Linked DNA regions of Homo sapiens. The protein of the gene in region 3 interacts with the protein of the main gene of each other region in a pairwise test. Each region holds a gene or a part of one and is shown on either strand. Other genes may lie near its edges.

The links.
Region 1: the proteins of ATXN3 (region 3) and AKR7A2 interact in binary tests that used the Homo sapiens proteins (3 or more experiments, as listed by UniProt).
Region 2: the proteins of ATXN3 (region 3) and ARFGAP3 interact in binary tests that used the Homo sapiens proteins (3 or more experiments, as listed by UniProt).
Region 4: the proteins of ATXN3 (region 3) and CREB5 interact in binary tests that used the Homo sapiens proteins (3 or more experiments, as listed by UniProt).
Region 5: the proteins of ATXN3 (region 3) and CCT6A interact in binary tests that used the Homo sapiens proteins (3 or more experiments, as listed by UniProt).
Region 6: the proteins of ATXN3 (region 3) and CASP3 interact in binary tests that used the Homo sapiens proteins (3 or more experiments, as listed by UniProt).
Region 7: the proteins of ATXN3 (region 3) and ZHX3 interact in binary tests that used the Homo sapiens proteins (3 or more experiments, as listed by UniProt).

What each region holds. Positions count from the first base shown.
Region 1 is NC_000001.11:19,305,159-19,309,144, forward strand, and holds part of AKR7A2 (aflatoxin B1 aldehyde reductase member 2), read right to left. Parts: intron 3,485-3,986; coding exon 3,297-3,484; intron 3,105-3,296; coding exon 3,000-3,104; intron 2,253-2,999; coding exon 2,156-2,252; intron 1,944-2,155; coding exon 1,844-1,943; intron 990-1,843; coding exon 860-989; intron 191-859; exon of another isoform or gene 53-190; intron 1-52. UniProt on the Homo sapiens protein: Catalyzes the NADPH-dependent reduction of succinic semialdehyde to gamma-hydroxybutyrate. May have an important role in producing the neuromodulator gamma-hydroxybutyrate (GHB). Has broad substrate specificity.
Region 2 is NC_000022.11:42,808,249-42,812,894, forward strand, and holds part of ARFGAP3 (ADP-ribosylation factor GTPase-activating protein 3), read right to left. Parts: intron 2,697-4,646; coding exon 2,565-2,696; intron 643-2,564; coding exon 519-642; intron 1-518.
Region 3 is NC_000014.9:92,075,583-92,079,082, reverse strand, and holds part of ATXN3 (ataxin-3 reference isoform), read left to right. Parts: intron 1-3,500. UniProt on the Homo sapiens protein: Deubiquitinating enzyme involved in protein homeostasis maintenance, transcription, cytoskeleton regulation, myogenesis and degradation of misfolded chaperone substrates.
Region 4 is NC_000007.14:28,415,036-28,419,681, reverse strand, and holds part of CREB5 (cyclic AMP-responsive element-binding protein 5), read right to left. Parts: intron 1-4,646. UniProt on the Homo sapiens protein: Binds to the cAMP response element and activates transcription.
Region 5 is NC_000007.14:56,054,765-56,058,264, reverse strand, and holds part of CCT6A (T-complex protein 1 subunit zeta), read right to left. Parts: intron 2,901-3,500; exon of another isoform or gene 2,763-2,900; intron 2,642-2,762; coding exon 2,468-2,641; intron 1,955-2,467; coding exon 1,851-1,954; intron 273-1,850; coding exon 162-272; intron 1-161. UniProt on the Homo sapiens protein: Component of the chaperonin-containing T-complex (TRiC), a molecular chaperone complex that assists the folding of actin, tubulin and other proteins upon ATP hydrolysis.
Region 6 is NC_000004.12:184,638,989-184,643,634, forward strand, and holds part of CASP3 (caspase-3 isoform a preproprotein), read right to left. Parts: intron 1-4,646. UniProt on the Homo sapiens protein: Thiol protease that acts as a major effector caspase involved in the execution phase of apoptosis. Following cleavage and activation by initiator caspases (CASP8, CASP9 and/or CASP10), mediates execution of apoptosis by catalyzing cleavage of many proteins.
Region 7 is NC_000020.11:41,202,264-41,206,909, reverse strand, and holds part of ZHX3 (zinc fingers and homeoboxes protein 3), read left to right. Parts: intron 1-1,843; 5' UTR 1,844-1,993; coding exon 1,994-4,646. UniProt on the Homo sapiens protein: Acts as a transcriptional repressor. Involved in the early stages of mesenchymal stem cell (MSC) osteogenic differentiation. Is a regulator of podocyte gene expression during primary glomerula disease. Binds to promoter DNA.

The DNA.
Region 1 (3,986 bases), on a different chromosome or scaffold from region 3:
TATATGTGCTGTCGATGCAGGCATGACATTCAATCTTTTTCTCTGTTTTCAGCATTGGAATGAGAAAACTTATGTAAAACACAGCTCCCACGTACTGAACATCTACCGGATATATGCCAGACACTATGCAACATGGAAGGCTGAAGCTGGAGATAAGTTTGTTGCTGTTATTTTCATTGTTGTTTGCTTGTTTTTTTTAGACAGGGTCTTGCTTTGTCACCCAGGCTAAGGTGCAGTGGTGTAATCTCAGCTCACTGCAGCCTTGACCTCCCAGGCTCAAGCCATCTTCCCATCCCAGCCTCCAGAGTAGCTGGGAACGTAGGAGCAAGCCATCACAACCTGGCTAATGTTTTTGATTTGTTGTAGAGATAGGGTCCCATTTTCTTGCCCAGGCTAGACTCAAATGCTTGAGATCAAGCAATCCTCCCATCTCGGCCTCCCAAAGTGCTGGATTACAGGTGTGGGTCACTGCCACTGATCAGGAAATAAGTTTTAACCAGGAAGACATGAGGCATCAAGAGAGAGAAACCAAAAGGGTGAGATGGGTGGGTCTTAGTTAAACCTGTGTTAAAATGTCTGCCACTTTAATAGCTGGGTGAACCTCGGTTTCCTCATCAATAACACTGGGATAATCATACTTCAGAAAGCCTAAGGAATAAGAAAATCCCTGTAATGAAAATCCCTCACTACAAAGCCTCCACTCAGATACCATCAAAGACCAGTGGGAAGAGTGCTTATGAGAATTGGAAGAAAGAAAAATTTCAGAGGAATTCAGAAATCAAATGCTTTGGGCTTCACCTAAAGGTGACGCTGGTCCCCCTGGAAGGGAAGAAGCTGAGCACCCAGGGTCGCTGGTTACCTGCAGCTGTGAGTGGTGGTACATCCACCGGAGGGCAGCCGAGGTCACACTGGGGGCGCTGGCGCCATATGCGGCCTGCAGGGCCTTCTCCACCAACGCAATGGCCTCGAAGTGGTGCTCCTTCCAGAAGCTGTGCAGAGGGGATGTTAGCACAGGGGTCAGTACCATGGGGGTCACACTGGGAGCCGCAACCAAATAGCCATCCAGGACCACTGCCCCACCCCACACCCTGCAGCCCTGAGGGGCGGGTGTCCTCTCTAGTCATAGGTCTCCCACTTTGCTGGGCATCAGAACCACCCAGGATGCTGGGCCCCTCAGCAGAGACCTCAATGGATCTTTACTCCTGAGGACTCAGTAGCCTAGGGACTTCCCTAGGGACACGAAGGCTGCTCAGATGGGGCAGGATTCCCTCCTGGGCTCTCTTTTTGCTTTTTGATACATGGTCTTACTCTGTTGCCTACACTGGAGTGCAGTGGCATCATTATGGCTCACTGCAGCCTCAACCTCTTAGACTCAAGTAATCCTCCTGCCTCAGCCTTCCAAGTAGCTGGGCTACAGACAGGTGTGCACCACCACACCTGACCACTTTTTTGCATTTTTTTTTTGTAGAGACCATGTTGCCCAGGCTGGTCTTGAACTCATGAGCTCAAGTAACCCTCCCACTTCGGTGTCCCAAAGTGCTGGGATTACAGGTGTGAGCCACCATGCCTGGCCCATCCTGGGCTCGCTTTTTGCTTCCCAGCAGGTGATTGCTCAGGAACGAGCTATGACTTCAAGACCCCAACATCCAGGGATCCTCATTTCCCCCCCAGAGGTCTCAAGACAACAAGAAAACCCACAGAGGGCTTGGGAATTCCTGAAGCAATGCAGGGGAGGAGATGCAAACAGCAAAGGAAGGTCTTACCTCAGGAACAGCCCAGGACTTCATTCCACATAGATTTGACCCCACCCCAGCCATCCTCACCAAGCCCACCCCCGGCTCACCGATTCCTGTAGGTCTCAGCCCAGCTATTCCCAAAGAAGCGGCCCACAGGCTGTTTCCCGTCCTTGTCCTCATACTTGTACTTGCCAGTCAGCAGGCCCCCTGCGGGAAGGCAGCAATCAGCCCCTGGCCCCAGAGTGCCCCAGAAGCTGCCACATCCCTCAGGGCTCTGGTCTAGGGGAGGGGCAGGGACCCAGGAGGGGCTGAAGAACACAGCCCAGCCTCTTGTCAAACCCTCCCTGCTTCATAAATTCTGGGCTGGGCATCTGTGGGTCAGGAATAGGCTGAGACAGGGTCAGGAATGCTCCACGTACCAGCCAGAGGGTTGTAGGCATAGAACCTCAGTCCAAAGTGCCTGAGGCAGGGGAAGAGCTCCGTTTCCACCTGCCGGGTGGTGGCGTTGTACATGCCCTGCAGGGAGAGGGACCCCGGGGACAGGGTGGACATGTCAAGAGAAGGAACTGTTGCCTTCCACTTTCAAACCTCTAAAGCAACACCGGCCCAGGACTTCAGCAATATTCTAACATCACTACTGTTAGTAGGGGATGGAGGGAAGGTGTTGGGCCCAAGGACAGAAAATTGAAGTGGAATGGTATCTTTCCACAAATATCTGCTGTATGAACTCCATGCTGGACACTGGTTACAACCACAAGTAGGTATCACAAAATCCCTGCTTCCAGGAGATGTTTACTCAAGTTTAAAAAAATAGACAAGGAAGGCAGTTAATTACAATAAAGTTAGGTTCTACAATCAAACAAGGAGCTGGAAAGTACTCGCTGAATGTATGAAGATGAGATTTGGAGACTGGAGACTCCTATGGGGCTGTCTAGAAAGGCTTCCAGAGGAGGAGACCTCTATGTAAGGCCTGAGTGCTTCTCCCAGGGAGGAGGGCAGGGGAAATGTGTTCCAGGCTGAAGTATGAAAGGAGGTGGGGAAGGAAGGGTCCAAGGTGCACAGATAGGCAGGAAGGAAGCAGATGCCCAGTGGCCAGGCTGAGGAGCTTGAATGGCATCCTGAGGGTACATGGGAGCCATCTGCAGGCTTTCAGCAGGGGAGTGGCTGCTATGCAGACGGCACAGGGGGCAGTCAGGGGGGCAAAGAGAGCCCAGGATTAGCAGGAGTCCTGGAGACCTTGGCCTCTGCAGCCCCGGCCCTCACCTGGTACACAGTGGGCAGGATCCAGCCATTGCTCTTGCAGAGGGTACAGATCTCGGCCACTTCCCAGCTAGCATAGTTGGAGAGGCCAAGCTCCACGAACTTGCCCTGCATGGGTGAGGCTCCAGTCAGAACGCAGTGTAGCCCAGACCAGGAAGGGGAGGCCAGGGTGGGGCCCCAGGGAATGGGGCTATTCCCTGCCCCACCCTGGGACTGCCCTGGTGCCTCTGCTCTCATGAGTAGGATCAGGATAAAGAAAGGAGCAGGAGCCCACCTTTGGAGCTCGGAGGGCCCCCTCACCTCCTGGTGCAGCCGCTGGCAGGCATGCAGCGTCTCTTCCACCGGGGTGCCGTGGTCAGGTGCGTGTAGGTAGAAGAGGTCCACTTGGGGACACTGCAGCCTCTTCAATGACGTCTCCAGCTGGGACCGGACACTGTCAGGCTTTAGTGATTTTCCATCCCAAGGGTTGGCCTTGGTGGCAATTTTCACTTGGAGAGAGAATGGAATGGTTAAGTGACCTATTAGAGCCATTTGCTAACCATGTAACCCTGGCTAAATTACTAATATTCTCTTGGCCTCAATTGTATGATCTGTAAAATGGGGTGATAATAATCAAACTGTCCTCATTGGGAGGTCCTGGGGATTAAATAATGTCATATATGTGAGTTCTCAATGTTCACCTATTAGAATAACTATCATTAGTCACCAACCTGCTGGCTGTGCCAGGCCTTGCACTAGAGACTGAGTATGCAGAGATGAACTGAACACAATGGATCTCTGCCCTCCTGGAGCCCTAGAGGATGATGGTACAATATGGTAAGCACAGGAGGGAAAGGCACACGATGCCAAGGAGCCCAGATGAGATGCATGAAGCCAACTTGGAGACTCCAGGGAAGGCTTTCTCTAGGGGATCACTCCCAGAGTCCCAGCCAACAAGGAAGAGCAGGAAGTACACTCCAGAGCATGGGAACCCATGCAAAGTCAAAGAGG
Region 2 (4,646 bases), on a different chromosome or scaffold from region 3:
TTAGCCAGGTGTAGTGGTGCACGGCCGTATTCCCAGCTACTTGGGAGGCTGAGGCAGGAAAATCGCTTAAACTTGGGAGGCGGAGGTTGCAGTAAGCTGAAATCATGCCACTGCACTCCAGCCTGGGTGACAGAAGGAGGCTCCGTCTCAAAAAAAAAAAAAGAAACATATCTATGTGCTTCATTTCACTATGTTTAAAAGTTATTAAGTAAATTACAGCTGCACCAACAATTGAAATATATTCAAAAGATACTGGATAATGGCTATTCAAAACACCAAGAGAGGAATAAGACAACTGTGAGATAAGTCCTTGTCTTGTAAACATTCCTCTTGCTGAGGTAGCAAGCACATGATCAGTTATACAGACCTGGGTTCAAGTCCTGACTCCAGCACTTTCAGGCCAGAGGGCATCTGGCAGCCTGAGCCCAGCTCACTCAGGATCTCCTCCCCGACAATGCCCACACCCACACTTCCTTCCTGCATTATGGGGCACCCAAAGAAACTCTCTGGACCCTTACATCAGCCTGGGATTGTCTTCCAAAATACATATCTGATGAAATGGCCTTGACATTGCCAAACTTCTTCTGGGCCTCATCTGTATTTTCAACTGGCTCATAATCTGGCTTGCGGCGAGCAGTAGGTCTGCAATTAAAAACAGCCAAATTAGGTTAAACTAATTTGAGGTGAAGCAAATGTGTTTCATACTCATTTTATTTTTTAAAATGCCAACAGCAGTAAATTTTGTAAAAGGATTTTAGGCTGTTTTTAAAAGCCTGAAAATTCTAATTAAAAAAAAAAGAATAAATACCCAAACGATACAAAATTTGAAGGAATTTCTGTTTAAAACGGGGTCTGTTATTTCACATTTCAGTTCAAATATGTTATATCACATTTCAGATCAACTGGGTAAACACTGAATACATTGTTTGGAATGTCCATAGGACACTGCTCTCTCTACATTGTATAGGTTATAAAATGTCCCAGTTACCTGGGACAATTTCAAGTCACACCTGTTGTCCCAACATATTAGTAGTACCCCCTTGCACTCTCAGAAGTCCTCTGGTTGGAAAATAAATTCATTCATAATCACCAAAAACTGGAGACAGCCCTTCAGCAGGTGAATGGATAAACTTGGCAAGTAAGAGGAATGAATACAAGAATGAATGAGTCTTCCCCAAGTGTACTAAGACAAGTTAAACCAGAGTAGGAAGGCCAATTGCTACATGACTCCATTTATATGATATCTGGGAAAGGCAAAATTGTAAGGCCAGAAAACAGACCTGGGGTGACCAGGGGCCAGGGGCAGGGGAGGGGGGACTACAAAGGGCATGGGGAAAATTTGGGGGTGATGGGAACTGTTCTGTTTCTTGGTTTTGGTGGTAATTACATGAATGTATGTGCTTGTCAGAACTGTAAGTTTAAAAAGATGAATTTTACTATATGTAAATAATACCTTAAAATTGGGGGAAAAAAGGCCGGGTGCGGTGGCTCACGCCTGTAATCCCAGCACTGTGGGAGGCCAAGACGGGTGGATCATGAGGTCAGGAGATCGAGACCATCCTTGCTAACATGGTGAAACCCCGTCTCTATTAAAAATACAAAAGAATTAGCCAGGCGTGGTGGCGGGCGCCTGTAGTCCCAGCTACTCGGGAGGCTGAGGCAGGAGAATGGTGTGAACCCAGGAGGCGGAGCTTGCAGTGAGCTGAGATTGCACCACTGCACTCCAGCCTGGGTGACAGAGCAAGACTCCATCTTAAAAAAAAAAAAAAAAAAAAAAAAATTGGGGAAAAAGGTGAAACCTTCCTGACCTAGGCCACCCCTGACCCATGGATCAGAATCTTCAGGGAAGAGGACTCCACACACACATTTCTTTCAAGGTCCACAGAGGATTCTGATGTGCACTTCCTATTTAGAATCAGTAATTTAAAATCAAAACAGGCTGGGCACGGTGGCTCACACCTGTAATCCCAGCAGTTTGGGAGGCCGAGGCAGGCGGATCATTTGAGGTCAGGAGTTTGAGACCAGCCTGGCTGGTGAGGCAACCGTCTCTACTAAAAGTACAAAAATTAGCCTGGCATGATGGTGTGCACCGGTAGTCTCAGCTACTCGGGAGGCTGAGGCAGGAGAATCGCTTGAACCTGGGAGACGGAGGCTGCAGTAAGCTGAGATTGCACCACTGCACTCCAGCCTGGGCAACAGAGTGAGACTCTGTCTCAAAAATAAAACAAAACAAAACAAAAAAACAAAATCAAAACAATATTCCTGAAATAGTAGAACAAAATCATTTACTAGTCTTACAAAAGGTTTCAAAAGGTTTTCCTTTTTGAGGGGGACTTACTCTGTTGACCAGGCTAGAGTACACTGGCGTGATCATAGCTCACTGCAGCCTTGTACTCCTGGGCTCAAGTGATCCTTTGACCTCGGCCTCTTAAAGTGCTGGGATTATGGGAATGAGCCGCCGTGCCCAGCCCCTTACAAGGGTTTTCATGTCATCATGTTATCAGCAATTTTTTCCCAGAAATGCATGGATTCACTACTACAACCCCACAGTTTTGCATTCATACCTGTCTGAATAGCCTGTGGTTTTCAGAACTGTTTCAGTATCTTTGCTGGTCTCTTTTTTCCAATAGGAATCTGAACTGTCATCCCAGCTAGAGAAAGAACTGCTCCTTAACTCCACTGGCTCGTCAAAGTAACTGTAGGAGCAAGAGTACAACAGTGACTTTGGAGGTCCTTGTTGACACTCGTCCTGGGCTCTCTCACTTCCACAGATGTGGGGGATGCCTCCTTGAAGTTAATGGCAGTCACATAACTAGGTCTAGCCAATGAGACAGGAGCAGACACGAGGTGTGTCATTTCCAAGGCCTTTCAAGTACCTGTGTTCAACCTTGCCCAGTCCTCTCTTCCCAAGCTACATGGAAGAGATTGTGTTCCAGGTGCTACAGTCTCAGGTAGGTGAAACCTCCATCAGTCTGGACAATCAAGATGACACATGGAGGACAGGTACTCTAGAGAACCACCTGAACCCTTAGCTGACTTTATGTGAAAAAGAAATCAATTGTCATTGTGTTCAGCCCTTGAGATCTGGGGGATGTTTATAACCTTAGTATAACTTGGCCTATCCAGACAACACAGGGCATCTTTAAATGTTATCTACCACAGGTTACACATTTCACTGTCTTTAGGTCTCATTCCGCCTGGTTAGGCAATCACAAATAACACTGCTGGGCCTAGAGAACTGACTCCATACAAGGAGCTTCTTGTTGGCAATCCCTTCCGTGTTAAGCACATTCAATGAAAATGATGTAAATGATGCTCATTAACCTCCTCCTGGAGTTGGATACAAAGCTATGGATCATGATCACTGGACCATTCTGGGGATAGTCTTTCAGCCTGGAGCCTGCAGTAAACTTGATCTGATTTGCAAGCATCCCAGGAGAGCCTGGCCTTCAGATCAGTTTACACTTTAATTAGCCAATTGTCACTGAGCAGGGCATTGCTCAGAGAGCAGCACTCAGTGTTGGCTTTTGGTCCTGTGTGATTAGAGAAAAATCTTTGACCAAGAGCAGCAAGGTCTGCCTGGAACAGGAGAGACTGACAGGCGAGGTGGATGTGCCAAAACCTTGAGAAAAAGTGACCATCAACCAGCCAGGCACGGTGGCTCACACCTGTAATCCCAGCACTTTGGGAGGCCAAGGCAGGTGGATTGCTTGAGCCTGGGAGTTCCAGACCAGCCTGGGCAACATGGCAAAGCCCCATCTCTACAAAAAATGCAAAATAAAAAATAAATAAACAAATAAAATAACCGTTTCCTGACCATCTCCGGGGATTAAAAGAAAAAATTAATGGGGCATGGTGGCACGCCTATAGTCCCAGCTACTTGGGAGGCTCACCTAAGCCTGGGAGGCCGAGACTGCAGTGAGCCATGATCATGCCACTACACTCCAGCCTGGGTGACAGAGTGGGATACTGTCTCAAAAAAAAAAAAAAAAAAAAAAAGGGACTGTGCCATGCCAGAATTCACGATAGCTTAGGATGGAAAAGCAGTCTGGCCAGATATACACACCTCATTAAGGCAGTCCAAGAAGTTCAGAGGAGAGAGGCAGATCCCAGGGAGGTCTTAGGAAAGGAAGGGTGACAGAAGAGAATGCAGAGGCCTTAACAGACATCATCCAGGTTTTCTCCAGAGAGTAAGGACAGGAAGCACACTGGAAATAAGATGAGCACCAAGCTCCGTGCTATAAGGAGTTGCACAGAAGATGCAGATCATAGGAGGTCAGAGGGGCCAGTAACCAAAGGCCAATATAAGAGGGAAGCAAGAACCCATAAGAGCAAAGAGGCCAGGGACCTCGGTGAGCTAAGATCTGGGTGGGGGAAATGCTAAGAACACATTTACTCTTTCTTGGCAGAAAACAAAACGAAACAAAAAAGGGACAGAGGATAAACTGCTGTTGGAGCAGATGGTATGATATTACATCCTTAATAGACAGAAAGTAGAATTTCTAAATGTGGCTTCTGCCTTCTCTGGCAAGAAGGTCATTAAGAACAAATCTCATGACACTAGCATCTACTCCTTAGGAAGGAAAACGTGGTGTTCAAAGTGTATCTGGATTTCAGCTAGAAACCGACCAGGCTCTCCCTATGGC
Region 3 (3,500 bases):
TCCCAAGTAGCTGGGATTACAGGTACACACCACCATGCCTGGCTAATTCTTGTATTTTTAGTAGACACGGGATTTCACCATGTCGTCCAGGCTGGCCTTAAACTCCTGACCTCAAGTGATCCACCTGCCTCGGCCTCCCAGAGTGCTGGGATTACAGGCATGAGCCACTGAGCCCGGCCCAATCTCGTTTTATAATACTCCCATCTCCCATTCTTTCCACTGTCCCACCTGCAAGTTTGGATTATTTTGTAACAAATCTCAATCATCATATTATTCTATAACCATTTTAATATGTGTCTCTAAAATATATTAGCTTTATTTTTAACATAGTTAAATGCTATTGTCATAAAATAATAATCATAATAATTAATTGTAATTCTATATCATCAATTATCTAGTTAATGTAAAAAATAAATCTAAGGCCAGGCGCGGTGGCTCACACCTGTAATCCCAGCACTTTGGGAGGCTGAGGTGGGCAGATCACCTGAGATCAGGAGTTCAAGACCAGCCTGACCAACATGGAGAAACCCCATCTCTACTAAAAATACAAAAAATTAGCCAGGCGTGGTGGCGCATGCTTGTAATCCCAGCTACTTGAGAGGCTGAGGCAGGAGAATCACTTGAACCCGGGAGGCGAGGTTGCGGTGAGCCGAGATCGTGCCATTGCACTCTAGCCTGGGCAAAAAGAGTGAAACTCCATCTCAAATAAATAAATAAATAAATAATAAAAAATAACTTAAATCTACTTAATTAGAAAAACTAACATTCTAAAAATTTTATTTTAAGAAATATCAAAATTGGCTGGGCACGGTGGCTCACGCCTCTAATCCCTGCACTTTGGAAGGCTGAGGTGGGCGGATCACCTGAGGTCAGGAGGGTCAGGAGTACAAGACCAGCCTGGCCAACATGGCGAAACCCTGTCTCCACTAAAAATACAAAAATTAGCCAGGCATGATGATGGGCACCTGTAATCCCAGCTACTCAGGAGGCTGAGACAGAAGAATCGCTTGAACCCAGGAGGTAGAGGTTGCAGTGAGCTGAGATCACCCCACTGCACTCCAGCCTGGGTGACAGAGTGAAACTCCGCCTCAAAAAAAAAAAAAAGAGAAAAGAAATATAGAAATTAAAGCATACATGGCCAGGCGTAGTGGCTCATGTCTGTAATCCCAGCACTTTGGGAGGCTGAGGCAGGCAGATCACTTGAGGCCATGAGTTCAAGACCAACCTGGCCAACATGGCGAAAGCCTGTCTCTACTAAAAATACAAAAAAATTAGTTGGGCATGGTGGTGCACACCTGTAATCACAGCTACTTTGGAGGCTGAGGCAGGAGAATCGTTTGAACCCAGAGGTGGAGGTTGCAGTGAGCCGAGATTGTGCCACTGCACTCTATCCTGGGTGACAGAGCGAGATACTGTCTCAAAAAGAAAAAAAAAAGGCTGGGCGCGGTAGTTCATGCCTGCAATCCCAGCACTTTGGGAGGCCGAGGCAGGCAGATTACGAAGTCAGGAGATGGAGACCATCCTGGCTAATACAGTGAAACCCCGTCTCTACTAAAAAATACACAAAAATTAGCTGGGTGTGGTGGCAGGCACCTGTAGTCCCAGCTACTCTGGAGGCTGAGGCAGGAGAATGGCATGAACCCGGGAGGTGGAGCTTGCAGTGAGCAGAGATCACACCACTGCACTCCAGTCTGGGCGACAGAGCGAGGCTCTGTCTCAAAAAAAAAAAAGAAAGCATACTCTCACCTCCTTCAGTGACTGATGTTAGTATTTTGGCACATTCTTTTTCTGTGACATATACACACTTACCTTGTAAGTGTTGTACTCATTTCCTATGACAGTAAATAGTCTTTGTAACAGGCTGCATGATATTTCATAAAATGAATGGATGTGGCATAATTTATATGTGAGCCTTTTGAATTCTGCTATTATAATTAATATTGCAATGAACAATTCTTATATTGCCTCTACACCTCAAATGTCTTATCATTTCTTCTAGTTTTTCTGAGGATGTCAGATTATTGGGTTAAAGGATATGAACATTTTTAAGGCCTTGGAACAGATTTCTAAATTGCTTTCCAGAATAATTCCCATGTGATACTTTCACCATGTTTATTTCAGACTTTTTTTTTTTTTTTTTTTTGAGACGAAATCTCACTCTGTCACCCAGGCTGGAGTGTAGTGGCATGATCTCGGCTCACTGCAACCTCCGCCTCCTGAGTTTAAGCGATTATTCTGCCTCAGCCTCCCAAGTAGCTGCGGTTACAGGCAAGTGCCTCCATGCCTGGCTAATTTTTGTGTCTTTTGTAGACATGGGGTTTCACCATGTTGCCCAGGCTGGTTTCGAACTCCTGAGCTCAGGCAATCTGCCTACCTCGGCCTCCCAAAGTTCTGGGATTACAGGCGTGCACCACCGCGCCCAGCCATCAGAGTCTTTTTTGTCAAAATAAAATGGTCTAAAGACATACATCATAGAGAAACTATAATACAAAATTTACAGGTATATCTAAGAAAAGAAAAGTATATTTAAAGCATAAAAATAAACTGCTCTTTTACTTAAAATTTTTTAAAAACTGGATTAAAAATATGAAACTTCCAACAAATTGAGCTTTTTTTTTTTTTTTTTTCTTTTTTGAGACGAGGTCTCGCTTTTGTCACCCAGTCTGGAGTGCAGTGGCGCGATCTCGGCTCACTGCAACCTCCACCTCCCTGGTTCAAGCAATTCCCCTGCCTCAGCCTCCCAAGTAGCTGGGATTACAGGCGCATGCCACCACGTCGGGCTAATTTTTTTGTATTTTTAGTAGAGAGGGGGTTTCACCATGTTGGCCAGACTGGTCTCGAACTCCTGATCTCAGGCAATCTGCCAGCCTGGGTCTCCCAACATGCTGGGATTACAGGCATGAGCCACTGCACTCGGCCTGAACTTTTTATAGTAGTAACGATAATTCAGTAATGTCCAATAATGACTAAGTAAGTTATAACAAGTACAATGTCAGCAATAACTAGTGCTTTTTAGTAAACAGGGTCAGGCAACCTTGTACCCTTTTAAAAATGTTCGAATATCGATATACCTCCTTCCTACTTGGTGGAGGATTGATTGAGGAGGAAAGTGTGCAGTGATGGTTACCAGCTTCAGCCTCTTGGCTTGACTTTGCAAATACTGGTGAGAATTTGGAAAGAGCTTGAGAATATCTTACATAGTCACATGTTGCTGAGAAGAGTTAAGAACTAACTTCTTGATGTTCATTTTTAACAATGGCTTGCATTCAAAACCTTGTAGAGCTCATTAGTAGGAGCTAAGAAGCTAATATTTGCCTTTCACTAAAATTCCTGATTACTTAGCCTAGGTAGTTCGTTGTCTCTCTAGGTTCTGTCTTTGGGAGCTTGGGTCTAAGGTTATCAAGCTAACTCTTTCTTCCCTCTCACCCTTCCCAAATTGACCCTGGTGCTGATTTGTTATTCATACGATTTTCTAGTTTTTCTTTTCCCTTTTTGAGTAT
Region 4 (4,646 bases), on a different chromosome or scaffold from region 3:
TAAGCACATTTGCAAGTGTATGCCCTACTAACATTCTGGTCCTCACTGGCCCAGGTTTTTATTTATATACATATTTATTTTCATATAAGCATAAACACCATAAGCATGTATATGTATGAATATTAAAATTGCTTTAAATTTAGCATGATGCTTGGAGGAAAGAATCCAAAATAATCGCCCCCTGGCACTGGTCGAAAATTGCACTATTAATCAACAGCTCACCCATCAAAGACACAGAAATGCAGACAGAGACTGCAAATGGCCAAGCCAACGTATCACCATTGTTAGGAGAAAACAAAAACCAAATACTTAAACACAGATGGCTCCAGACCAAGTGTGAAGACAGTACATTGGCACGACAAGGGCTAAAGTGTTTTATAAAAGATAATTTAGGAGGTAGGGCTAGAGTCTATCTTGCTCAACAAATGAATCTGTACAGACCTTTGCCTTCAATCCCCAAAACAGATGAGTAACTTACATCATTAATCTCATTGTCTCTCCACACAATACTTTTAACAGTCAATCACAAAGTAGCCTGAGAGAAAGTTTCCCTGGATACTACCAAACACACAGGTTTGCAACAGATGTCTCCATGCAACTTTTAAAACAGATTCCATGTTAAGAAGTTAATATATCCTTATGTATTTACTAATCAATCCAGCTACATGTAGCCTGAAGCTGGAAAGTAAGAGGTATTAGCAAGGAAACCATTTAACTGCAAATAATGCATGGGAAAGCACCCGAAAGAATGTTATTTATAAATACAAAGACAAGCGCAATAGTACAAGCAATTGGAAAATCCCTACCTGGAAGCAACCCAAAGCAGTGCTTCTATCTGGAATATCTGGAATACATGGCACTAATAAATGTGAGCTCTTTTCTCATACCGACCACCCATCTAATCAATGAGCAGGATGCCTAGCCTTGGCAATCTCTTAGTTTTCCCATCTATAAAATGGGGATTAGAGATATGTGTTAATAAATGAAAGCTAACATTCTTCCAATGAATGACATTACAGAAAACACAAATATCACCACAAAATGTAGAAAAACATGTAATTTTATATTTAAAACTAGTTTATAGTCATGCTTTAAAGGCGATATGGTTGAATAGACATGTATTTGGACATAGATGGCTCTGCAGGGGATAAGGAGAGAGAGGGTCAGAGTGAAATGACTCATGAATTTGGGGATGCAGAGGCTCTCTGCAGCATGAAGTCACAAGAGGCTGACACCAAGGTCTCTCCTCCCCTCCACAAACAATTCTGTCTGTAGACTTCACAAGAAGGTGCGTGAGGAGTTTGGAAATTATTTTTTATTTTATACTTTTTGCATCCTTTAGTGAATGCACAGACTGGTGTATTATAAAAAACAGGTATATTAAAATAAAGCATTCTGATGTGCATTGAAAAACATTGATTCTTCTAATATTTTAAAAGGTGACAAATAAAAATGAATACCTTAAGTCTAGGAGGTTATAACTAACATCTTGACATGAGAAAATCTGGTCTAGGCAATAACACAAGTTTGTTAAAAGCTTGGAAGGAAGAAAATTCTGGGGGATCCAGATGTCTCAACTGGAGTAAAAATTTCCCTCCCCAAACAACTAAAGGCAAGTATCTGGGGCAAAAGAGTAAGCTGGCAAAATACTGTAACTGAAATGTGAGAATCCTGACCTTTTCCGAAACAGAGGGTTTCTACGAGGTTACATGTAAATCAAATCCTAAATTAAGATTTCTAGTGAAGCAGACCATTTAAAACACCCACGTTTGAAAGTTACACAAAACAGAGCCCATTTGTGGTGCAAAGAATTATTGTCTAAGTTATTCATTCTGTAAATTTTAATCTTTATCAGTTATATTTTCTTAAATATGTGTTGCAGGGTGCAGCATGCTTGTAACAACTGCTTGCTGCCCTTGAACTCTGAATGAACGCTTTACTGCAATCCCTTTCCTGAAATAGAATCATAGAATATTAGAGTAGAAGATTCCTTAGAGATCAGTTAGAACCGTGGTTCTCAACCTCTGCTACACATTGGAAACACTTGTGGAGCTTTTAAAATATACAGAGGCTCAGGCCTTCACCCCAAACCAATTAAATCAGAATGTCAGAGTGGAAGGGTATCAGTGTTTTTTAATAAGTTCCACAGGTGGTACTACTGGGCTGCCAGGATCATAAACCACTGATTTACCCTGTGTTGTCTGATACCATAGTCACCGACCACACGTGGATATTGAGCACTTGAAATGTGGCTAGTCCAAATTGAGATATGTTGTAGTTGTGAAATACACACTGGATTTCAAAGATTTAGTACCAAAAAAAAAAAAAGAGAGAGAAAGAGAGAATGTAAAGTAGTACATTAACATTTTTATATGGATTATATGTTTAAATGATAATATTTTGGATATATCAGGTTAAATCAAAGTGTTATTAAAATGACTTCACCTGTTTCTTTTTAACCTTTTTAATGTGGCTACTAAAACGTTTAAAATGAAATGTGCAGCTCACATTTGCAGCTCTCACTACCGGACAGTGCTGGGTGAGCCCGACATTCTCATCACAAATGAAGAAACTGAGGCAGAGAAGCACAATAAGCTCAAGGCAGCTCTCTGGGAATTGCGTCCCTCCTCCAGTCTCAGGCTGCTCATTGTTGCAGAGCCACGAATGGACAGAGCTTGTTATGCCATCAATCTAATTTCAACTCTTCTTCCCCCCTTTTGTTTTGCTAATTGTTTCTTCTAAGATTTGATATAAAAATCTATTTTCCTTATGGAAAAATATCTCTGCTCTGCTGTGTACACATTTGTGACTTGTTACTGCAGGATTATTCATCAAGGCAGAGTAGTTGAAATGGATGTTAAAGAATGAATCTAGGGAAACACTACCTGAAGGAAAATGCAGAGAATAGACAAAGAGAACATTTTGTCATGCTGTAGTTTAGAAAATGACCCTGGAGGCCCCCAGCGTTCTGACAGTCACCTTCGACACAGGATCATTCCCTGATATGATTTTAGAAGCTTGAGCCTATAATATTGTTTCTCCTCCTAGGAGTCAGTGTTTTTCTGCACAATGTTGTCATTGCAGTGAGGCAAATCAGACCCTTCATGATGGTGCACCACACCATAGCTAGATACCCTGGTGGAAACGGACTTTATCCCAATGCCTTCTACTGTCTGATGCATGAATTAATACCTGGCCAGTCAGAAGCCAACTTACTTAAAGGAGAAGATCTTGTTTTGATAAAGTGAAATGGTCCTACCAGATCTGGCAAATAGAGATTACATGTATTTCTTCTAATAGTCAGCTAATTCAAACAAAAACAAAAATTTTGTTGTTGTTGTTGTTGCATGTATTTTTCCCCCTTAGGAAGCCAACAGAGAGAGGACTGCATAAAACTGGCTGAAATGTGTTCTATTGGAGAAATCATGCCTGCAACACAGGAGCTCCTCAGTGTAATAAAAGAATAAAAAGAGACCTGAATTCTGATATAAAATCGCATGCAAACAGCTGGAGAGGAAACCTGTGGGTGAGGCCAAACAACACATGCAGTAGGTGCATTCAGGATTTCTATTTAGACATTGTTATTCCCCATCTTAAATACAGCACAGACTAAATATCATCTTAAATCAAATGTGTGGTGCTCTAGAGCCCTCTGTGTTGCATGCATGAATTTTTTTGGTTATGATTGGTCAAGTTTTGCCAGTCAAACCTCAAAGAACATACTTCCAGACTCAATTCACTTCTCGTCACCTCCAAACACACTCATATATATCCATCTGGAAAGATAATGTATTACAGACAGATCCTAGGCAAAGGTACACCTTCTAGAGTGAAAACATCACCCGTTTCTCTATTTGACAAAAAAGGTTATTTATTTTAACTTTAAATAATATTTCAGATCCCGTCCTCACAGATAATAGAGAAAAGACAGGTAGTAGAGAAAGTCACTGCCTTGTTCTTGAGACAGTCTTTCAGACCATTTTTAGTCCTGCCTGGTTTTTACTCTCAAATGAAATCTGGATGGTGTGGTTTTACAGGGTATGTCTCATAACAATGATGAAAAAAGGAGAATTTAAGTTAAAATTAATTAAGGAGGCCCTTATTAGAAAAAATAACATTGCAGATATTATATAAGAATGAATGAAATAGAAACTACAGTTTTTATGATTAAGGTGTTCATTCCAAAGATCTGATAAAAATTTGTCTTTGAAAGATTAGTCATCAAAAGGCTTGAAAAGAGTGAAGGATACAAAGTCATAGGTTATGCCCCATTCCTGACAAGGGCATTTATGGCAGGAGCACCCGACCTGGAGGCAGGGACCAGGCTTCTCAGCCTGGTTTGGCTCTCTCTAGCTCTGGGCCTTGGGTGAGCCAGGGGTCTCTTCTGTAAAATGAAAAATTGGTCTATCAATCCGAGGCCCTCCCCTAGCCCTACCATCCGTGTAAAGCCATAAGCCTTTGTAACTCACCATCAGAATCTCTAGGCCTAAAAGAACTCCCTCTAAAATCAGTTCTAGTCAAACGCCAGCCTGGTAGTTTTCAATCCTTGTTAAGGATTGAAATCCTAAAATCTTTTTAGGGTTAAGATCAGAAATGTAACCTTAAGGAAATAGAAGAAAGCAGCTGAAATACATATTTTTAAAGTG
Region 5 (3,500 bases), on a different chromosome or scaffold from region 3:
CAATCCTGCCCCTTATGCATCTTCAGAGACTGTTTCCTATAGCTCCCCCAAACCAATTTGAGCATTATTGTCCTTACAGTGGGAAACAAAGTTTCACAAAAAAGTAACTCGCCTAAAATACGAAGCTTCTCCATTTCACTGTTAAGGGGCTATAAACTTACGTTTTCTCATACTCTAATGACACGTTACAAGTGAGGATGTATGCATCCTCCACCCTTTTCTTCATATCAGGATGCCGTGCTCCGTGGTCCAAAACAAGCCCTCTGATTAAGCTGTTTAAACACACACAAAATTATGGTTATTGATTTTCAGATGGGTATTTAATATATTAAACACTGAAATGAGAAGGTATTGATATTTCACGCAGTCACATTTTTCTTTTTTGAGATGAAGTCTCGCTCTGTTGCCCAGGATGGAGTGTAGTGGTGCCATCTTGGCTCACCGCAAGCTCCACCTCCTGGGTTCACACCATTCTCCTACCTCAGCCTCTCAAGCAGCTGGGACTACAGGCACCCACAACCATGCCCAGCTAATTCTTTTGTATTTTTAGTAGAGACGGGGTTTCACCGTGTTAGCCAGGATGGTTTCGATCTCCTGATCTCGTGATCCGCCCGCCTTGGCCTCCCAAAGTGCTGGGATTACAGGCATGAGCCACTGCGCCCGGCCTATTTCTTAAATTACCTGAAGATCCTACGCTGTACAGAAAAGTCTGCAGAGATGGTCTCACTGGTAGGCTGTCAAACTGTGATGACGTCCTTTAAAAACATGTTTTCTACCAAGCACCTGTAATCCCAGCACTTACGGAGGCAGAAGTGAGAGGACACCTTAATCCCAGGAATTTAAAACCAGCCTGGGCAACATAGGGAGACTCCATTCTCCACACAGACACACACACACACACACCCCAAAGGGAAAACAAACATGTTTTCTAACTAACTCTTTGAAAAAAATATTTTTTTAAATTCCTCTACTACTTCTCATTATGCTTTGTACCTAGCAATTCAATAAATGCCAAATGACTGATGTTGTTCACTTTTCAGAATCATTCTAACCATAAACATAACATTCACCTTATTTCAGGAGAAAATATTACTAAAAACAATATTCTCCTAGCAGTTTATCCAACTTATATCTTCAGGTAAATATATAACATTTTATATCCAAAGATATTTTTAAAATTGCCATCTCACGCCTGTAATCCCAGCACTTTGGGAGGCCGAGGTGGGCGGATCACGAGGTCAGGAGATCGAGATCATCCTGGTTAACATGGTGAAACCCCGTCTCTACTAAAAATACAAAAATTATCCGGGCATGGTGGCGGGCGCCTGTAGTCCCAGCTACTCGGGAGGCTGAGGCAGGAGAATGGTGTGAACCCGGGAGGCAGAGCTTGCAGTGAGCCGAGATCATGCCACTGTACACTCCAGGCTGGGCGACAGAGCAAGACTCCATCTCAAAAAAAAAAAAAGCCAACTATCTATATTGTACAAAGCACCCCTAAATTTCTAAACACAGTTTATTTTTTGTTTTTGTTTTTTTTTTAATGGGACGGGGTTTCGCTCTTGTCACCCAGGCTGGAGTGCAATGGTGTGGTCTCAGCTCACTGCAACCTCCGCCTCCCAGGTTCAAGCTATTCTGCTGCCTCAGCCTCCCGAGTAGCTGGGATTACAGTCATGCCCGGCACGCCTGGTTAATTTTTGTAATTTTAATAGAGACGGGGTTTCCCCATGTTGGCCAGGCTGGTCTGGAACTCCTGACCTGAGGTGATTTGCCCACCACAGCCTCCCAAAGTGCTGGGATTACAGGTGTGAGCCTCCATGCCCATTAGTATTTCACAGTCTTCTACCACCTACCTTGTATCAGTTTCAGATTTATGTTTCATCTCCATGATCTCAATCATGAAGAGATCAATAGGTTCATCTTGCTTTTTAATGGCCAAAATGGAGTCCACTACAGCCTGCAATTGGAGGAGCATAACCGTTAAGTAAATTCAATTTGCAGCAGAAACATGTTGCTTTTCAGAAGGCTAAAGTAGGCAGTTTCATTTTACAATTCTACACTGATTTAAGTCTTTTTCTATCAGCAAATAGAATACATTATATGTAAAAGGCAACAGCTGAAGTCATTTACATTTCTGAAATCTCCATCTATAATTCCCAAACATTAACATTAATTAACATTAACATTCCTCGTTTTATTAAAAATACTGGTAACTGGAAGCTTTCTAATAAAAAAATCTCCACTTTATAAACCTTTTAATGAAAGCTTCAATTTTACTTTTATAACCTGGTTAGGTATACTATTATTTTAATTTCCTCATTTTTAGAGACACAGATTAGGTATCATTGCCACAAAAATGAACCTACACAGCACCTTGTAATTGAAATTGGTAATCATATTCATGTTTCTACTATCAGAGATTTTCTATATAGGTATACTATACCAGACATAGACAAAATTTAATACATACCTCTGTTAAGACATCTGCAAGTTCAGCATGAACTTTAGTACGAAGAGATGTTCTGGCCACATCTATAAGTGTTTCCCTGTCCATCTCTCTGCTTACTTTGACTTCTTCCAAAAACTGAAGGGCCTTTTCCTTTGCAGCTTCAAATCCTTCAGTGATTATTCTAGGATGAAGGCCCTAAAATAAACACACATTAACACTTGCATCTTCAATTAGGTGCAACCATAGTTCATGATAAAGTTCAGGTAATTATTGAAGGAGTGTTCTGGATCATCATACCTTTGAACACGAGGTAATATAATGTGCTGGCTTTCTGAATACATTTAAAAGGACAAATATTCCTTTCAATGCAGAGCAGATGAACAGGTAATGAATGCTCTAGCACAGGGTCAAAGCCAAGGGAACTATAAAGCACACTTGGGTGTTCACTGTGCAAACCACTCTGAATCATTTCAAAACCAACACTGTGTCCCAACAACTCACAGATGGTAGCATTATCCTATCTTTATTTTCTTTCATTTTTTTTGAGATGGAGTTTCGCACTTGTTACCCAGGCTGGAGTACAATGGCACAATCTCGACTCACCACAACCTCCACCTCCTGGGTTCAAGCAATTCTCCTGCCTCAGCTTCCCAAGTAGCTGGGATTACAGGCATGCACCACCACGCCTGGCTAATTTTTGTATTTTTAGTAGACACGGGGTTTCTCCATGTTGGTCAGACTGGTCTCGAACTCCCAACCTCAGGTGATCCGCCCACCTCGGCCTCTCAAAGTGCTGGGATTATGGGCGTGAGCCACTGCGCCTGGACTATTCTATCCTTTCTATAGGTAATCTCAAACTAACTCACATCATTTACTAATAAAAATAAAGACTGTTCTCTTTCTCCAGGAAATTCTGACAATACATTCATATTCACTGAGGTTTGCTTTAACCTTGGAACTAGTCAGGGCTAAAAAAGTGGAATTTATCCAAATATAAGCTTTTGGTTGCCTTTTTCCTAACAAATATGCCTAGTCCTAAACATTCCATTTTTAG
Region 6 (4,646 bases), on a different chromosome or scaffold from region 3:
ACCCAGGCTGGAGGGCAGCGGCGCAATCACGGCTCACTGCAGCTTCGATCTCCTGGACTCAAATTCTCCCGCCTCAGCCTCCCGAGTAGCTGGGATTACAGGCATGCACCACCATGTCTGGCTAATTTTTGTATTTTTTGTAGACATACGGTCTCGCTGTATTGCCCAGGCTGGTCTCAAACTCCTGAGTTCAAGTGATCTGCCCACCTAGGCCTCCTAAAGTGCTGGGATTACAGGCAAGAGCCACCGCACCCGGCCTAGTCTTTACTTTTAAAGTGGGTTTTGGAAGCCCAGCTTCTCATTTAGGGTAGTAAAATGGCCCAGGAAATGTAAAAGTAGAAACTAAAGTTTCTGCTTTCATTCTTCCATTACACAATTATATCTCACAAGGTGAACCAGTTCTTAGAATCAAAGCAACTATCACTTATTGAGCACTTAATATATACCAGGTACTTTGCAAGGCACTCAGTTTTAATCTTTTCAAAATTCTAAACGTCAGAAAACCCAACTTCTGGTGGTTAAGTGACTTTGTCGACAGTCACAATCTAAGTGACAGGGCCCTCTTCCCACTCTGCTATGCTGCCTCTGAAGAAGCCAGCTCCTTACTACTTTTCTGGAGTTCTACCAGGCATTTTCTGGCTTTTCGAAGCAAAGGTACTTCCCATGGCAATCCACCTCCCTAAATAGAGGAAAACAAGAACAAAGGCAAAACAAAAAACAAAAACAAAAAATACTGAGTGACCTTCTCCACACTCTAGAAACCCTGACAATGTCAAAAATTCCAGTCAAAATACAACTTTAACCTCACTCCTATGATAAAATCAGAAATACCAAAATAATACACAAGCCTATAACAGAACTTGCTCACCCTCAAAAGTCCTTCTAGAAAGTCCTAGGTAACTTCCCCCACTTTTAAAAATTTTAATCTTTAAAACTGTGGTGAAATAGACATAAAATTTACCACTCTTAAGCGTACAGCTCAGTGGCATTGAGTACAGTTACACTGTTGGAATCCATCCCAGGACTTTTTTATCTTCCCAAACTGAAACCTTTACCAAGGTCCCCAATTTCAAGGTCTCTTGGAAAACATCATTTCTTCCCTTCTATTAAGACAAAGCTAAGCTCCTTCCTCCCCTCTCTCCCAGTTTTGTGTGCACCCCTGGTGAGGAAAGGTGCAGCAATAATATAGAAGACAGCCAGTGCCACCATCTCAATTTAACCACAGGAGAGGGTGATGTTTGACCTTCTCCAAGAGCCAGTCTATGCTCTGCATTTCTACGAAGACTTTGCTTTTCTACCATCTTACTTCCTGTAGGCTTTCTGGAAAATCAAGGGAAGATGTGAGTATAATTGGGATAAATCATCTTTTAGTTTGTCAGTAAACAAATACTTTGTGCCAGGTATCATCCTGGGAAATAGGACAGAGTGGAAGACAAGACAAAGTTCCTATCTTCCATTAGATCTTACTTTAGATAGAAGAATAATTATACAGTAGTATACCTGTGGGGCAGGGGCAGGGGGTACCTCCCAAGTCCCCCAGTAGATGCTTGAAACCAAATACAGTACTGAGCCTATATGCAGCATATTTTTTCCTATACGTACATACCTATGAAAAAGTTTAGTTTATAACTTGGGCGCAGAAAGGGATTAACAACAATAACTAATACGGGTACCTGAACATAAACACTGCCATACCATGACAGTTGATCTGATAATCGAGACAGCTACTAAGTGACCTGCCATTAGTCACTCAGTACATATTACATATTAGTATGTCTTCACATATTAACATATTTATTAACAGTGGCTGTCTGGGTGATGGCATTACTGACACCTTATTTACTCCTTAACATTCCTCTATATCTTCTAATTTTTCTATAACATCTGCATTTTTTAAAAGTGAGAAAACAGTAACAAATATTATTCTATAAAATAATATCAACAAAGGTCAGGATTGTTCTAGCCAATTTCAACTCTTGGCCCTGTTTCAAGAGTGACAAAAATAGGGGTATTCTCCTATCAAAGTAGCCACCCTTCCTTGCCTCTATCATGCTCAGTACCATGTTCCCCTCTATCTGCCCTTTTTTCTTTCATATGTACAATAAACATGTATTAGGTACCAGGAAATCTCGAACTTCCTTGAACCATGAATATCATAGAGACCAACTTGCCCCATGCACATCAATTCAAAGCGGACAGACCACATACAAAATCATTAGCCACCTGTGGTTGAGAAACAAATTGTGGTTAACTTGATTAACTGAGAGAACAGTACAGGGTAGCTAACAAGTCTGGAAACGTAGGTGAACACATAATAGTTTACTGATATTGCATTATAATCCATGAGAAAATATCTTTGTTTCAAGACTTTATGGCCAATCTATAGAAAATCTAAAGTGAAAATCCAGTGGGCCTCATCAAAGATACACAGACTGCAAATAATGGGAAATGCTAATTAAAGCAACAATGAGGTATCATTACATACCTAGCAGAATGGCCAAAACCAGAACACCATCAACACCAAATGCTGGTGAGGATGTGGAGCAACAGGGATTCTCAATCACTGCTCGTGGAAATGCAAAATGGTACAGCCAACTCGAAAGACAGTTTGGCAGTTTCCTACAAAACTAAACATACTCTTACCATATGATCCAGCCATATGGTAAATACGCACTCTTTGGTATTTACCCAAAGGAGTTGAAAACTTATGTTCACACAAAAGCCTGCACACAGATGTTTATAGCAGTTTTATTCATAACTGTCAAAACTAGAAGCAACTAAGATGTCCTTCAGTCGGTGAATGAATAAATAAACCGTGGTATATCCAGAGAACAGAATATTACTGAGCACTAAAAAGAAATGAGCTAGCAAGCCATGAACACTTTAAATGCATTATTACTAAGTGAAAGAAGCCAGTTTGAAAAGGCCATATATACCGCATGATTCCAACTATCTGACAATCTGGAAAAGGCAAAACTATGGAGACAGTAAAAAGATCAGTGGTTGCCAGTGGCTAGGAGGGAGGGAGACAGCACAGAGAATTTTTTTTTTTTTTTTTTTTTGTTTTGAGATGGAATTTCGCTCCTTGCTCAGGCTGGAGTGCAGTGGCGTGGTCTCGGCTCACTGCAACCTCCGCCTTTAGGTTTCAAGCGATTCTCCTGCCTCAGCCTCCTGAGTAGCTGGGATTACAGGCGCATGCCACCATGCCAGGCTAATTTTTGTATTTTTAGTAGAGACGGGGTTTCACCATGTTGGCCAGGCTGGTCTCGAACTCCTAACCTCGTGATCTGCCCGCCTTGGCCTCCCAAAGTGCTGGGATTACAGGCGTGAGCCACCGTGCCCGGCCCGCACGGAGACTTTTTAAGGCAGTGAAACTACTCAGTGTGACAATATAATGGTGGATACAAGTCCTTGTAAATTTGTCCAAAACCATAGGATAAACAGCACCAAGAGTGAACTTGATTGTGAACGATGGCGTTTGGGTGATGATGACGTGTCAGTGTAGGTTCCTTTGTAAGAATGTACTACTCTGGTGCAGGATGTTGATAATGGGGGAGACTACGCACGTGTTGGGGGGCAGGTGGGATACAGGATGTCTCTGTACGTTCTTCTCAATTTTGGTTTGAACCTAAAACTGCTCTAAAAAATGAAGTCTAATTTAAAAACTGGGAAATAAGACTTAATAACTTCGGAAGCTGAACCTGGAGCTCCTGGCAGTATCCTTTCTAGCCCCCAGTCTGCCTCAAATTGGCTCTCTGAATGCATGTGCCAAATGCAGGGTTCACAGTCTGTGCTCAGGAACCCCTAAATGCTGATCAGCTTCCACAGACAACCAAGGACCTAAAGATCTCTTTTGAACACTTCTGCAAACAGTCTAGTAACTCTTACACTGAAATACTGACTTTTAATAAACTTGTGTCTTTTGCCAGCAATAAAATTGTGGGATAAAATTATTCTCTCCTTGTGACTGGTAATGGAAACTTTAAATAGTGACCAGCTTTTCAGAGTACTGTAATATACAAATACTATACAAATACTATAGTGGACTTCATTAACTTCATTATTAGTATCTGAACAACATACATTGCCTCAGTTATCAGTTTATTTTGATATACTTCTAAAAATTTATATGATGGTAGATGAAATCCTTACAGCATCAGACATGCGCACATTTGCTCTCTACTTGTCATCATCCGCTTTTTCCACATGAAAGCACCAAATCCACACTCCTGGGAGCAGAGCTTTGGTTCCCGCAAAACTCACTGAAGTGCTGCTTAGCATGACATCACCTCCATTAGCTAGTGCCCAGCAGGGTACAAATTATTCTGAGGATGGTGATCTCATCTTAGAAGGATAAAAAAATCACATCCTAAGGGAAATAGTCACTGCCTTAAATGAAAACAGAAATTTTGCCTGTAATCCCAGCACTTTGGGAGGCCGAGGCGGGCGGATCACAAGTTCGGGAGATCAAGACCATCCTGGCTAACACGGTGAAACCCCGTCTCTACTAAAAATATAAAAAATTAGCCAGGCGTGGTGGTGGGTGCCTGTAGTCCCAGCTACTCAGGAGGCTGAGGCAGGAGAATGGCGTGAACCCGGGAGGTGGAGCTTGCCGTGAGCCGAGATCGCGCCACTGCACTCCAGCC
Region 7 (4,646 bases), on a different chromosome or scaffold from region 3:
CCCGACCTTTCTCTCTGGCTGCCCTTAACATTTTTTCCTTCATTTCAACTTTGGTGAATCTGACAATTAATGTGTTTTGGAGTTGCTCTTCTCGAGGAGTATCTTTATGTTGTTCTCTGTATTTCTGAATTTTAATGTTGGCCTGCCTTGCTAGGTTGGGGAAGTTCTCCTGGATAATATCCTGAAGAGTGTTTTCCAACTTGGTTCCATTCTCCCTGTCATTTTCAGGTACACCAATCAGACGTAGATTTGTTCTTTTCACATAGTCCCATATTTCTTGGAGGCTTTGTTCGTTTCTTTTTTCTCTTTTCTCTCTAAACTTCTCGCTTCATTTCATTAATTTGATCTTCAATCACTGATACTCTTTCTTCCACTTGATCAAATCGGCTACTGAAGCTTGTGCATGCGTCATGTAGTTCTCATGCCATGGTTTTCAGCTCTATCAGGTCATTTAAGGTCTTCTCTACACTGTTCATTCTAGTTAGCTATTCATCTAATCTTTTTTCAAGGTTTTTAGCTTCTTTGTGATGGCTTCGAGCATCCTCCTTTAGCTCAGAGAAGTTTGTTATTACTGATCGTCTGAAGCCCTCTTCTCTCAACTCATCAAAGCCATTCTCCATCCAGCTTTATTCCATTGCAGGTGAGGAGCTGCGTTCCTTTGGAGGAGAAGAGGCACTCTGATTTTTAGAATTTTCAGCTTTTCTGCTCTGGTTTCTCCCCATCTTTGTGGTTTTATCTACCTTTGGTCTTTGATGATGGTGGCGTCCAGATGGGGTTTTGGTGTGGATGTCCTTTCTGTTTGTTAGTTTTCCTTCTAACAGTCAGGACCCTCAGATGCAGGTCTGTTGGAGTTTTCTGGAGGTCCACTCCAGACCCTGTTTGCCTGGGTATCACCAATGGAGGCTGCAGAACAGCAAATACTGCAGAACGGCAGATGTTGCTGTCTGATCCTCCCTCTGGAAGCTTCATCTCAGAGGGGCACCCAGCTGTATGAGGTGTCAGTCGGCCCCTACTGGGAGGTGCCTCCCAGTTAGGCTACTCAGGGGTCAGGGACCCACTTGGGGAGGCAGTCCAACTGTTCTCAGATCTCAAGGTGAGACCACCCTTTGAGTGGTCGTACACAGAAAATGTATAGCTTGCTGGGCCACAAACTGGTTCTGTGGATTCCCTGACCCTCTGACCTTTGGTTTCATCTCAGTAACAGTGGTCCGGGATACATAACAGCCAGTAACTGTAAGGTGATCGCTTTTCTGTGGCCTGGAATAAGTGCGGCAGGCAAGGAAAGGCTACAGAGGCCTGGCTCTTACAGCAGCCGGTCTTCCTAGCCACCCCCGCCCACCCCACCCCTTCCGTTCACACACTGCAGCTAACTTGGTCCCTGGGCCTGGCTTGGGACAGACAGAGGCGTCATCTTGTTCTCATATGCGGGAAGGCTATGAAAAGAAAACCGCGTGTTGGTCCAAAATGTAAACAAGAATTACACTAGGATCTTTTGTTCTCACTCTGACATGGTCAGAATTAATTTGGAGGTCCAAAAAGAGGGCGTTTTGTTTTTTAATCTGAATTACTTAATGCAGGGATATGTAGGGGGTGGTGGGGAAGAAACAAAAATACGTTGCTTAAGTCTATCAGTTGGTATTGGACCATCCCCAGGTCATTCTTCAGGGTCCAGTTTTTGTCATTAGGGGGTTCCTAACTTAGACTTCATATCCAAGTTGCTGATTAAACTTACTGTGAAAAGACCTAGATGGTAGAAGGCAAGCAGTGGAATGTGTCTGGGTATCCGAGAAATATACAGAAAGCACTTAAGAGAACTTAATCATTTTTTTCTCCCTTTCCTTAGATTGAATAGGGAAAACCTGCTTTCTGCAAACAACTGAAAAAGCTGCATTTAGAAACTGTTTCTTTGGCCCTCATCGAGAAGCTGGAACTTGTATTGTTAGGCCCCTTATGGGACAAGCTCTCAACTGCTGATCACCCAGTGATTGTCACCATGGCCAGCAAGAGGAAATCCACCACACCATGCATGATCCCAGTGAAGACTGTGGTGTTGCAAGATGCCAGCATGGAGGCCCAGCCCGCTGAGACCTTGCCTGAAGGACCCCAGCAGGATCTGCCCCCAGAAGCATCTGCTGCCAGCAGTGAGGCAGCACAGAACCCCAGCAGTACTGATGGCTCTACACTGGCCAATGGGCATCGGAGCACTTTAGATGGCTATTTATATTCCTGTAAATACTGCGATTTCAGATCCCATGACATGACCCAATTTGTGGGACATATGAACTCAGAGCACACAGACTTTAATAAAGACCCAACCTTTGTATGCAGTGGGTGCAGTTTTCTGGCAAAAACCCCTGAGGGGCTTTCCTTGCACAATGCCACATGTCACTCCGGGGAAGCCAGCTTTGTGTGGAACGTGGCCAAGCCAGACAATCATGTGGTTGTGGAGCAGAGCATCCCTGAGAGCACCAGCACTCCTGACCTAGCGGGTGAGCCCAGTGCTGAAGGGGCTGATGGACAGGCAGAAATCATCATTACCAAAACTCCAATCATGAAGATAATGAAAGGCAAAGCTGAAGCCAAAAAAATTCATACACTCAAGGAGAATGTCCCTAGCCAGCCTGTGGGTGAGGCCTTACCAAAGCTGTCGACTGGAGAAATGGAGGTGAGAGAGGGGGACCATTCCTTCATCAATGGGGCAGTTCCAGTCAGCCAGGCATCTGCCAGCTCTGCAAAAAACCCCCATGCCGCCAACGGGCCCCTGATAGGAACAGTGCCAGTTTTGCCAGCTGGCATAGCACAGTTCCTCTCCCTCCAGCAGCAGCCCCCAGTGCATGCCCAACACCATGTCCACCAGCCACTGCCCACGGCCAAGGCCCTTCCCAAAGTGATGATCCCCCTGAGCAGCATTCCAACGTACAATGCAGCCATGGACTCTAACAGCTTCCTGAAGAACTCCTTCCACAAGTTCCCCTACCCCACCAAAGCCGAGCTCTGCTATTTGACTGTGGTGACCAAGTATCCAGAAGAACAGCTCAAGATCTGGTTCACAGCCCAAAGGCTGAAGCAGGGGATCAGCTGGTCCCCTGAGGAGATTGAGGATGCCCGGAAAAAGATGTTCAATACAGTCATCCAGTCTGTGCCTCAGCCCACAATTACGGTTCTAAATACCCCACTCGTCGCCAGTGCTGGCAATGTCCAGCATCTCATCCAGGCCGCTCTTCCAGGTCACGTTGTGGGGCAGCCAGAGGGTACAGGAGGGGGACTTCTGGTCACTCAGCCATTGATGGCCAATGGGTTGCAAGCAACAAGTTCCCCTCTCCCCCTCACGGTGACATCCGTCCCCAAGCAGCCAGGTGTGGCACCCATTAACACTGTGTGTTCAAATACAACGTCAGCTGTGAAGGTGGTCAATGCGGCCCAGTCGCTCCTCACGGCCTGCCCCAGCATAACCTCCCAAGCCTTCCTTGATGCTAGCATCTACAAAAATAAGAAATCTCATGAACAGCTGTCAGCTCTGAAAGGGAGCTTCTGTCGGAACCAGTTCCCAGGGCAGAGCGAAGTTGAACATCTCACAAAAGTGACGGGCCTCAGTACCAGAGAGGTGCGGAAATGGTTCAGTGATCGTAGATACCACTGCCGGAACTTGAAGGGCTCCAGAGCGATGATACCTGGAGATCACAGTTCCATCATCATTGACTCTGTGCCAGAGGTGTCCTTCTCCCCATCGTCCAAGGTCCCTGAGGTAACCTGCATTCCGACAACAGCCACACTAGCAACCCACCCTTCTGCCAAACGACAATCTTGGCACCAGACTCCTGACTTCACACCAACCAAATACAAGGAGAGAGCCCCTGAGCAGCTCAGAGCCCTGGAGAGCAGTTTTGCACAAAACCCTCTTCCTCTTGATGAGGAACTGGACCGCCTGAGAAGTGAAACCAAAATGACCCGACGAGAAATTGATAGCTGGTTTTCAGAGAGACGGAAAAAAGTGAATGCTGAGGAGACCAAGAAGGCTGAGGAGAATGCCTCTCAGGAGGAAGAGGAGGCTGCTGAGGATGAGGGTGGAGAAGAGGATTTGGCCAGTGAGCTAAGGGTCTCTGGTGAAAATGGCTCTCTGGAAATGCCCAGCAGCCATATCTTGGCAGAGCGCAAAGTCAGCCCCATTAAAATCAACCTGAAGAACCTGAGGGTCACTGAAGCCAATGGCAGGAACGAGATTCCAGGGCTGGGTGCCTGTGACCCTGAGGATGATGAGTCAAACAAACTGGCAGAGCAGCTCCCAGGCAAAGTGAGCTGCAAAAAGACTGCCCAGCAGCGGCACTTGCTGCGGCAGCTCTTTGTCCAGACACAGTGGCCAAGCAACCAGGACTATGACTCCATCATGGCCCAGACGGGTCTGCCACGGCCAGAGGTGGTGCGCTGGTTTGGAGATAGCAGGTACGCACTGAAGAACGGCCAACTCAAATGGTACGAAGACTATAAGCGAGGCAACTTCCCACCAGGGCTACTGGTCATTGCCCCTGGCAACCGGGAGCTCCTGCAGGACTATTACATGACACACAAGATGCTGTATGAAGAGGACCTGCAGAACCTCTGTGACAAGACCCAGATGAGCTCCCAGCAGGTCAAGCAGTGGTTTGCTG